Linked DNA regions of Homo sapiens. The protein of the gene in region 1 interacts with the protein of each later gene in a biochemical or structural test. Each region holds a gene or a part of one and is shown in the gene's direction. Other genes may lie near its edges.

Region 1 (2,784 bases):
ACCAGGCTGGTCTTGAACTACTGACCTCAGGTGATCCACCCATCTTGGCCTCCCAAAGTGCTGGGATTTCGGGCGTGAGCCACTGCGCCTGGCCTAGGTTGTATGGGTTTTTTTCCCCGACAATAAGCAATTCTGTAATTCTTTGACAGTAACTGTGTGTCCTATAACTCAATTCAATTCTAACAGTAGCTCCTGGAGCTAGAGTCAGAACCCAAAGATTTAGGGGTCATTTCCCACTTTAGATAACAAATGAGGTACCCTGGCTATGCACACTTCTGCAGATTCTGACTGCAAATCAAACCCTTTCCTCAGGTTTGATAATTTGCTGGAAAGACTCATAGAACTCAGGAAAATGATTTACTTATGATTACCAATTTATTATAAAGAATACAACTCAGGAATAGACAAATGGAAGAGGGGCATGGGGGAAGGCCTCGGAGCTTCTGTGCCTCCCTGAGTGGACCACCCTTCTAGCTCCTGGATGTGTGCACTAATCCAGACACTCCCTGACCTTGCCAGTTGTGGGTTTTTCTGGAGGTTTTATGACATAGGCATGATTGATGAAATTATTGGCTATGGGTGATTGAATACAATCTCCAGCCCCTCTCCCATCCCTGGAGGTTTGGGGGTGGGGCTAGAAGTTCTAACCTTCTGATCGCGTGCTTGTTCTTCCTGGTGTGAGCCTCCATCAGGAATCTATGTAGGCCCCCATGAATCATCTTAGTAGTATATAAAAGACAGTACATTCGAAGGGTTTTAGATCTGTGTCAGGAATGGGGGACAAAGACCAAATAGTATTTTTAAAATTATACTGATTAGGTGTCATTTTCTTGCGCATTTCGGCAGAGGGACATAAGCTCAGTAAGTTAAGTGACCTATCCGAGGTTGCTCAGCCAGTATATGTCAGAGTGTTCACTGGACCTGCATCTTAACTCTGAGGCTGGCATTGTTAAACACCTGTAGTACTGCCTCCTGCTGAAACGTCTTTCCTCCCCTATGGAATAAACACTGGGAAACCACAGTCCCTGGGGAGTGATATAGTAGGGAGTTAGAGTAATGCTTGCATTTATTTTCCTTTGGCCTTAGGTCAAGAACTTCACTGAGGTCCACCCTGACTACGGGAGCCACATCCAGGCTCTTCTGGACAAGTACAATGCTGAGAAGCCTAAGGTAAGCTGGGAGCAGCCTGGCCATGCAGAGGCTGTGTGTGCTGGGTTGGAGTAGGCATGACTTAGTTACCACTTAGCATTACAGTCTGCAGGGGCCATTACCTGCCACTGTTAGATTTCTTAGGCAGCTGTGCAGAAATTCATTTGAGAGATAAAGAATTCACTGGCAAAACACATACTCTTCATTTTAGCGCTGGGCAATTTAAGACAGTTAAAGTGAATGAATTCTGAATTATTATTTTCATTTGCATACATATTAAAACTGAGTAAATATCACGTTGCTGCCCATGAGGTGATTAACCTGCTCATCTTGTTCTTTTAAAACAGAATGCGATTCACACCTTTGTGCAGTCCGGATCTCACTTGGCGGCAAGGGAGAAGGCAAATCTGTGAGGCCGGGGCCCTGCACCTGTGCAGCGAAGCTTAGCGTTCATCCGTGTAACCCGCTCATCACTGGATGAAGATTCTCCTGTGCTAGATGTGCAAATGCAAGCTAGTGGCTTCAAAATAGAGAATCCCACTTTCTATAGCAGATTGTGTAACAATTTTAATGCTATTTCCCCAGGGGAAAATGAAGGTTAGGATTTAACAGTCATTTAAAAAAAAAATTTGTTTTGACGGATGATTGGATTATTCATTTAAAATGATTAGAAGGCAAGTTTCTAGCTAGAAATATGATTTTATTTGACAAAATTTGTTGAAATTATGTATGTTTACATATCACCTCATGGCCTATTATATTAAAATATGGCTATAAATATATAAAAAGAAAAGATAAAGATGATCTACTCAGAAATTTTTATTTTTCTAAGGTTCTCATAGGAAAAGTACATTTAATACAGCAGTGTCATCAGAAGATAACTTGAGCACCGTCATGGCTTAATGTTTATTCCTGATAATAATTGATCAAATTCATTTTTTTCACTGGAGTTACATTAATGTTAATTCAGCACTGATTTCACAACAGATCAATTTGTAATTGCTTACATTTTTACAATAAATAATCTGTACGTAAGAACAGAGATGGTATTTTCTTTCTTTCGACTCCATATGTAACTGTAAACTGCTACCAGACTCTTAATTTGAACATCATCATTTTCAGATGTTTACCCTTAAAAATGGAAATGCCAGTATCTCGAGGACTCCATGTTATTTGTTTAAATCTATAGCCTTTGGACAGCCTTCTGAGACACTGATAAAATAGCAAATGCCCCAACTTTGAAAATTACTTAAATCTCTTGTCCATTTGCTCACTTACCTGTGATTGACTTTTTAAAACAAGGGCTCAGAACCACTGGTCACTTTCCTCTTCCTTCTTTTTAAAGCCCATATTTGCCTATCATGGTTGAAAATCACATGGAAGACTTTAAAGATGAGTTCTGAATACTAAATGAAAATTTGTTTTCCTTGAAAATCTTTATTCCGTTCATATTCAAAACCAGTTTGTGCCGGGTGTGGTGGCTCATATGCCTGTAAACCCAGCACTTTGGGAAGCCAAGGCAGGAGGATCACTTGAACTCAGGAGTTTGAGACCAGCCGGGGCAACATGGCGAAGCCCTGTCTGTACAAAAAATACAAAAATTAGCCGAGTATGGTAACGCATGCCTGTAGTCCC
Region 2 (3,657 bases), on another chromosome or scaffold:
TTCTCACTGAGCAGATTGTGAATATTTCCATATGGATTTTCTGTTGTTAATGTTGCTCCGATTCTTTGTTTTAAAATAAAAATTCTGAATGTGAAAAAAAGAGACTCTCCTTTCTTCCATTGAATTGTTTGGACACCTATGTTGAAAATCATTGGCTATAATTGTAAGAGTTTATTTGTGAACTCTCGATTCTCTTCCATTGATATATATACCTATCCTTGCATCAATACCACGCTGTCTCCTTTTCTAGGTATTTTAAAGTTTTTGTTACTATTAGGAACGGAGTTAAGGTTATTTTGAATCTAAAATATTCACTCAATAATAGACACTAGAGTCTCTACTACAGGGGAAGGGAGGGAGGATGGCAAAGGTTGAAAAACCAACTTCTGGGTACTATGCTCACTACTGGGGTGGCAGGATTATTCATATCCCAAGCCTCAGCATCGTGTGATATACCCATGTAACAAACCTGCACATGTATGCCCTCAATCTAAAATAAAAGCTGAAATAATTTTTAAAAATTAATAAATAAAATATTAACTCAGAACCGTTTTCCTTAGACTCATTAATATTTAATATATTAATATTAATTACAGATTAAATATTAATCTATTGATTAATTTAATTAATTAATCATTAATCTATTATAAAATTGTCTTGGTCTTGGATTAAAAAGAAAATACAACTTTTATGCCTAAACTAGGTAACCTAAAATTGCTTTGAGTCTACTAAATTCTATCTTGTAGGACTGTGTTGCAAAGATATCAGAGATGTTAGTGTACATATGTTTAGTGTACATTAAATGTCTTAATGAATAGCTTTTAGTTTGTGCTTTGAATTTGAACAGGTTATTGTTATTACTATATATTCACATTCCCTTTGTACAAGTAACATTTCCAAAGCTCTGATCCTTCTTATTCCTTTCAGATCAACCTCTAGAATCCCGTAGACTCTGCAACAAGCCAATTCAGAGCTTGCCCAACATGGACAGCATTTTTAGTGAGGCCCTCTTGAAGATGCGGAGGCAGCACCCTGGGTGTCTTGCACAGGAGGCTTGTGTCCGTGCAGTCCAGGCTGCTGTGCAGTATCCCTATGAAGTGGGCATCAAGAAGGAGGAGGAGCTGTTTCTATATCTTTTGCAATCAGGGCAGGCTAGAGCCCTGCAATATGCTTTCTTCGCTGAAAGGAAAGCAAATAAGTGGTCAACTCCCTCCGGAGCATCGTGGAAAACAGCATCAGCGCGGCCTGTCTCCTCAGTTGGTGTTGTTGGTAAGACCATGGGGTAATGAATGGAATCCTCCAAATCTGCTCATGTAATGTGCTACCATTTGCTTAGGGCTACCGGATGCTAGGTTTCACGTAAGACACATTACTTGTGTTAGCTAAGCTAATTCTCACACCACCCCATGAGCTCTCTTCTTTAACATGAGAGGCCTAGAGACGCCAGCCTTCTCAATGGTGAGCTAAACACGAGTAGGGTGAAAGTCTGACCCTAGGTCTGACTCCAGACTGGGAATGTTTTATTCTTTTTTTTTTTTTTTTTTTTTTTTTTGAGACAGAGTCTTGTTCTGTCACCCAGGCAGGAGTGGAGTGGCTCAATCTCGGTTCACTGCAACCTCCACCTCCCAGGTTCAAGTGATTCTCTTTCCTCAGCCTCCTGAGTAGCTGTGACTACTGCCACCATGCCCAGATAATTTTTGTATTTTTAGTAGAGACAGGGCTTCGCCATGTTGGTCAGGCTGGTCTCGAACTCCTGGCCTCAAGTGATCCACCTGCCTTAGCGTCCCAAATTTCTGAGATTACAGGTGTGAGCCACCATTCCTGGCCTAGCATTTTTTATTCTATGCTACCTCTTCCCTGTATGAATCTCTCATTCCTGGATTTCCTGATGATGATGATTTGTACCACATTTCAAGGTGTGGCCTGTCACTCTCATAGCTGGGTATTTGCAATCAAGTCTCTGTCTTTCCGTCCCCCGATCCATTCACTTCACCTGTTCAAAACCACTATCCTCAAATCCATCTTAACCCTGAAACCATGGCTTCCTTACTTTTTTTCCCTCTGGAATTTTCCCAAACAAAATATCTTCCTTCCTCAGATGCTAGCTCCCTGATTGGCTTCTCTGGGCCACTTTCCTAAGCTTCACTTGCTCTTAGTCTCGGCTCAAGAACGGTCTTTGGTGGATTTTAAATCCCTTGAGATGGTAAGTGAAGCATTCTTTGCACCAGCTTAGGTACAATCTTCTGGGGAGAGGGTCCATAGTTTACTAAAAGCATCAACTTTCTTTCTTTTCTTTTTTTCTTATATTTAAGTTTTTTTAATCATAATTAAAGACATGCAGGAAAGTTATAATAGTACAAAAAATTCTCATATACTTTTTATCCAGATCCTCCAAATGTTAACGTTTTACTATATTTGTTTTATTTCCCTCTCTCTTTTCTGAACCCTAAGAAAAAGTTACAGACTTATGTGTATTTCCTAAAATTAATATTCTCATACATGACCACAGTATAATTTATTTTAAAAAACAGGGCAATTAATATAAAGAACTATTATTTAGTCTATAGCCCTTATTCTGATTTTTCTTTCTTTTTTCTTTTTTTTTAACCATCTTTACGATTTGTAAGTATACAGTTCAGTAGTAATAAATATATTTATATCCTTTTTTTTCCCTTCATCTCCCATCCCCCCCTCCCCTTCCTGGCCTTTGGCAACCACCAATCTACCCTGTATCATTATGAGATCTACATTTTAAGCTCCCACATATGAGTGAGAACATATGATATTTGCCTTTTTGTGTAAAAGCATCAACTTTCTTAACCCTTGCCCAGCTGTCTAGCACAGTGGTCTCCAACCTTTTGGCACCAGGGACCAGTTTCACGGAATACAATTTTTCACGGATTGGGGGATGATGGTTTTGGGATGAAACTGTTCTACCTCAGATCATCAGGCATTAAATTCTCAGAAGGAGCATGCAACCTAGATCCCTCACATGCGCAGTTCACAATAGGGTTCGCGCTCCTGTGAGAGTCTAATACCACCACTGATCCGACAGGAGGCGGAGGTCAAGGCTGAAATGCTCCCTAGCCTGTTGCTTACCTCCTGCTGTGCTAACAGGTCACGGACTGGTACCGGTCCACAGCCAGAGGTTGGCGACCCCTGCTGTAGCACCAACCCAACTTGGAGGCAAAGATCTCACTCCACATTTTCTCAGTCTGTTTGTTCTCTCAATTCAACTTTGGTATCAAAGAATCTGTCTCTAATATAAATACATTGTGCTCCTTTCAGCTCTGACTCTGTTGAGGTCTACCCTTGATTCGCTTGGGATTTTTTTTTTTTTTTTTTTGATATGGAGTTTCGCTCTGTCACCCAGGCTGGAGTGCAGTGGCGCAATCTCAGCTCACCACAACCTCCGCCTCCCAGGTTCCAGCAATTCTCGTGCTTCAGCCTCCCAAGTAGCTGGGATTACAGGTGCTGCGCCACCAAGCCTGGCTGATTTTTGTATTTTTAGTAGAGACAGGGTTTCACTATGTTGTCCAGGCTGGTCTTGAACCTCTGACCTCAGGTGATCCGCCCACCTTGGCCTCCCAAAGTGCTGGAGTTACAGGCGTGAGCCTTTGTGCCCAGCCTCACTTGTGATTTTTTAAGAAGATGGAT
Region 3 (3,657 bases), on another chromosome or scaffold:
TGACAGAAGACAGACACCATTACATTCAAAGTCAGATTGTCTTTTATTTATTTATTTATTTATTTATTTATTTGAGACAGGGTCTTGCTCTATCACCTACAGATGGGGTTTCACCACGTTGGGTCTGGTGACCCAAATCTTTGGGTGATTTTTCTGCTGGAAGAGGACAAACACCATTACATTCAAAGTCAGATTTTCTGTTTTTTTTTTTTTTTTGTTTTTGTTTTTTTAATATTCATTTGTTTATTCATTTGAGACTGGGTCTTGCTCTGTCACGCAGGCTGGAGTGCAACCTCCCTGGGCTCAGTTGATCTTCCCTCAGCCTCTTGAGTAGCTGGGACTACAGGTGTGTGCCACCATGCCCAGCTAGTGTTTGTATTTTTTGTGGAGATGGTGTTTTGCCGCATTGCCCAGTGTGGTCTTGAACTAGTGCTCAAGAGGCCTGCCTCCTTCAACCTCTCAAAGTGTTAGGATTACAGATGTGAACTACTGTGCCTGATCCAAAGTCAGATTTTCTTTGCTTACTTAGTCAAGTTCGTCTATGCTTTTATTATACTTAATATATTAGTATAGTTACTGTATTAGTATATTAGCATATTTAATATATTATTATACTTATCATACTTGAGTATATTGAGTATATTTACACTTTTAGTATATTTGTATACACACACCACATTTTTATTATTTATCTTTTTTTTGAGACAGAGTCTCCCTCTGTCTCCCAGGCTGAAGCACAGTTGGCTCACTGCAACCTCTGCCTCTTGGGCTCAAGTGATTCTCGTGCCTCACCCTCCTGAGTAGCAGGGATTACAGGTGTCCACCACCAAGCCTGGCTAATTTTTGTATTTTTAGTGGATATGGGGTTTTACCATGTTGGCCAGGCTGGTCTCGAACTCCTGACCTCAAATGATCTGCCCGCCTTGGCCTCCCAAAGTGCTGGAATTACTGGCGTGAGCCACTGCACCCAGCCTATTATCTGTCTTTTGATGGACATTTAAGTTGTCTCTATATACTAGCTATTGTGAATAATGCTGCAGTGAACATGAGAGTGCTTGAAAACACTAATGTAACATAAAGGTAACAAATAATAAATGTCATGTGTTTATCTTGAAAGGAACTGAAATACGACGTTGGTGGAGGAGAACGGTTTGATTCTTTGACAGATCTTGTGGAACATTATAAGAAGAATCCTATGGTGGAAACATTGGGTACAGTACTACAACTCAAGCAGGTGAGCAGATTGGAAAGCTCAAGCTTTCTCCTTAAAAACTTAAAACAAATCCTAATAGAGAATTTTGCAAACATACAGAGGTAGACAGAATAGTATCATCAGCCTCCATGTACCCATTGCAGCTTCAACTATCAAATCTTTTTTTTTTTTTTTTTTTTTGAGACAGTCTTACTCTGTCACCCAGTCTGGAGTACAGTGTTGCAATCTTGGCTCACTACAACCTCTGCTTCCTGGGTTCAAGCGATTCTCCTGCCTCAGCCTCCTGAGTAGCTGGGACTACAGGTGCCCACCACCATGCCCGGCTAGTTTTTGTGTTTTTAATAGAGATGGGGTTTCACCATGTTGGCCTGGCTGGTCTTGAATTCCCGACCTCAGGTTTTCTGCCCGCCTTGGCCTCCCGAAGTTTTGGGATTACAGGCGTGAGCTACCACGCCCGGCCCTAAATCTTTTCTTATTATGATTCCACTCACTGACTGCCGCTATAGTACTTGGAAACATATTCCAGATTTATATTATTCCCATATTTATCTGTAAAAGGCATTACAGAGGTTCTTTTTTTTTTTTTTTTTTTTTGAGATGGAGTTTTGCTCTGTCGCCCAGGCTGGAGTGCAGTGGCGTGTTCTTGGCTCACTGCAACCTCTGCGTCCCGGGTTCAAGAGCTTCTCCTGCCTCAGCCTCCTGAGTAGCTGGGATTATAGGTGGTGCCACTACACCCAGCTAATTTTTGTATTTTTAGTAGAGATGGGGTTTCACCATGTTAGCCAGGCTGGTCTTGAACTCCTGACCTCAAGTGATCTGCCTGCCTCAGCCTCTCAAAGTGCTGGGATTATAGGCATGAGCCACTGCATCTGGCCTAAGGCTGTACAGAGTTTTAAAGCAAGTTTTCATTATAGATCCACTTCTGGTTACCTTTAGGTAACCTCACTTATTCACTTTGGCATTGTTGCTATTTCAAATTTCACCTTTATGATAGTGGAAAATGATATAATCTCTCTAAATAATGTGGTCTATTCATAAAGAAAAATAGGCTTGAATTTATATCAGCAGAGTAAAGTGTATGTGAAGACTGAAGAAAGATACATTTTCTGGCTGAACAGAAAACACGGTGAAACGATTTGAAAACTTTTATTGTGAATTACAGGGTCCTATGAACCCTCTGTCCGTGCCTTTATGAATATCAACATAGACATGTTTTTTTTTTTTTTTTTGCATTAACACCGTTTTCTGTAATATTTTCTTTATTTTACATCAACTGCTGTACTCGATCAGCCCCTTAACACGACTCGTATAAATGCTGCTGAAATAGAAAGCAGAGTTCGAGAACTAAGCAAATTAGCTGAGACCACAGATAAAGTCAAACAAGGCTTTTGGGAAGAATTTGAGGTAAGTTATTAAAAAACTGTTTTTACGTGAGTTGTTATATCCTATTTTTAGTGGAGGAGAAGTTGCTCTTGTGTTTGGAATTGGACCTGAGAGACTTGAAACTGACGTCCTTTTTTAATTCGGCCATTGATTGACACGGAGCAAGTTGCTGAGAGGGCTTCTTCGAAACAGAAGAGCATTGTGTTCTGAGGGAAGGGAGTTGGCAGTGAGTAGTCAATGGATGTGCTAGCCGCTCCATTTGGCTCTTTTGGTTTGGACTGGTGGCAAAATCTCAGAGAAACAAAAGGATCTAATTTCTTCGAAAGATTTCCAGCATGCACTGGGGTCTTTAGAAACAATCTATAGCCTTAGTGCAGCAAATGAGTATGAGTAAAAGAGAAACACCTTGTGGTGGCTTTTTTTTTTTTTTTTTTGAGACAGGGTCTCGCTCTGTCGCCGAAGCTGGAGTGTAGTGGCGTGATCTCGGTTTACTGCAGCCCCGTCCTCCCTGGGCTCAAGTGATCTTCCCATCTCAGCCTACTGAGTAGCTGGGACTACAGGCACATGCCCCTATGCCTGGCTAATTTTTGTATTTTTGGTAGAGATGAGGTTTTGCAGTGTTGCCCAGGCTGGTCTTGAACTCTTGGGCTCAAGTGATCCTCCTACTTAAGCTTCCCGAGTAGCTGGGACTACAGGCACACGATACCATGCCCATCTAATTTTTGTATTTTTTTGTAGAGATGGGGTTTTGCAGTGTTGCCCAGGCTGGTCTTGAACTCTTGGGCTCAAGTGATCCTCCAGCTTTGACGTGCCAAATGTGGTGGCTTTAATTTCAGAGTTCAAATTGATAACTCTGGTAAGTTAAGTGAACTGATTTCTTTTTTTTTTAAATTATTTTTGTTGATTATACTTTAAGTTCTGGGATATATGTGCAGAACGTGCAGGTTTGTACATAGGTATACATGTGCCATCATGGTTTGCTGCACACATTAACCCATCATTTAGGTTTTAAGTCCTGCATGCATTAGGTGTTTGTCCTAATGCTCTCCCTCCCCTTTAAT

What was found.
Region 2: the proteins of CAT (region 1) and EHHADH form a complex in vitro, tested with the Homo sapiens proteins (one study listed by BioGRID).
Region 3: the proteins of CAT (region 1) and PTPN11 form a complex in vitro, tested with the Homo sapiens proteins (one study listed by IntAct).

The regions. Positions count from the first base shown.
Region 1 is NC_000011.10:34,469,872-34,472,655, forward strand, and holds the end of CAT (catalase), read left to right. Parts: intron 1-1,086; coding exon 1,087-1,170; intron 1,171-1,496; coding exon 1,497-1,562; 3' UTR 1,563-2,189; downstream 2,190-2,784. UniProt on the Homo sapiens protein: Catalyzes the degradation of hydrogen peroxide (H(2)O(2)) generated by peroxisomal oxidases to water and oxygen, thereby protecting cells from the toxic effects of hydrogen peroxide.
Region 2 is NC_000003.12:185,202,028-185,205,684, reverse strand, and holds part of EHHADH (peroxisomal bifunctional enzyme), read left to right. Parts: intron 1-927; coding exon 928-1,269; intron 1,270-3,657. UniProt on the Homo sapiens protein: Peroxisomal trifunctional enzyme possessing 2-enoyl-CoA hydratase, 3-hydroxyacyl-CoA dehydrogenase, and delta 3, delta 2-enoyl-CoA isomerase activities. Catalyzes two of the four reactions of the long chain fatty acids peroxisomal beta-oxidation pathway.
Region 3 is NC_000012.12:112,453,447-112,457,103, forward strand, and holds part of PTPN11 (tyrosine-protein phosphatase non-receptor type 11), read left to right. Parts: intron 1-1,117; coding exon 1,118-1,234; intron 1,235-2,503; coding exon 2,504-2,617; intron 2,618-3,657. UniProt on the Homo sapiens protein: Acts downstream of various receptor and cytoplasmic protein tyrosine kinases to participate in the signal transduction from the cell surface to the nucleus. Positively regulates MAPK signal transduction pathway. Dephosphorylates GAB1, ARHGAP35 and EGFR.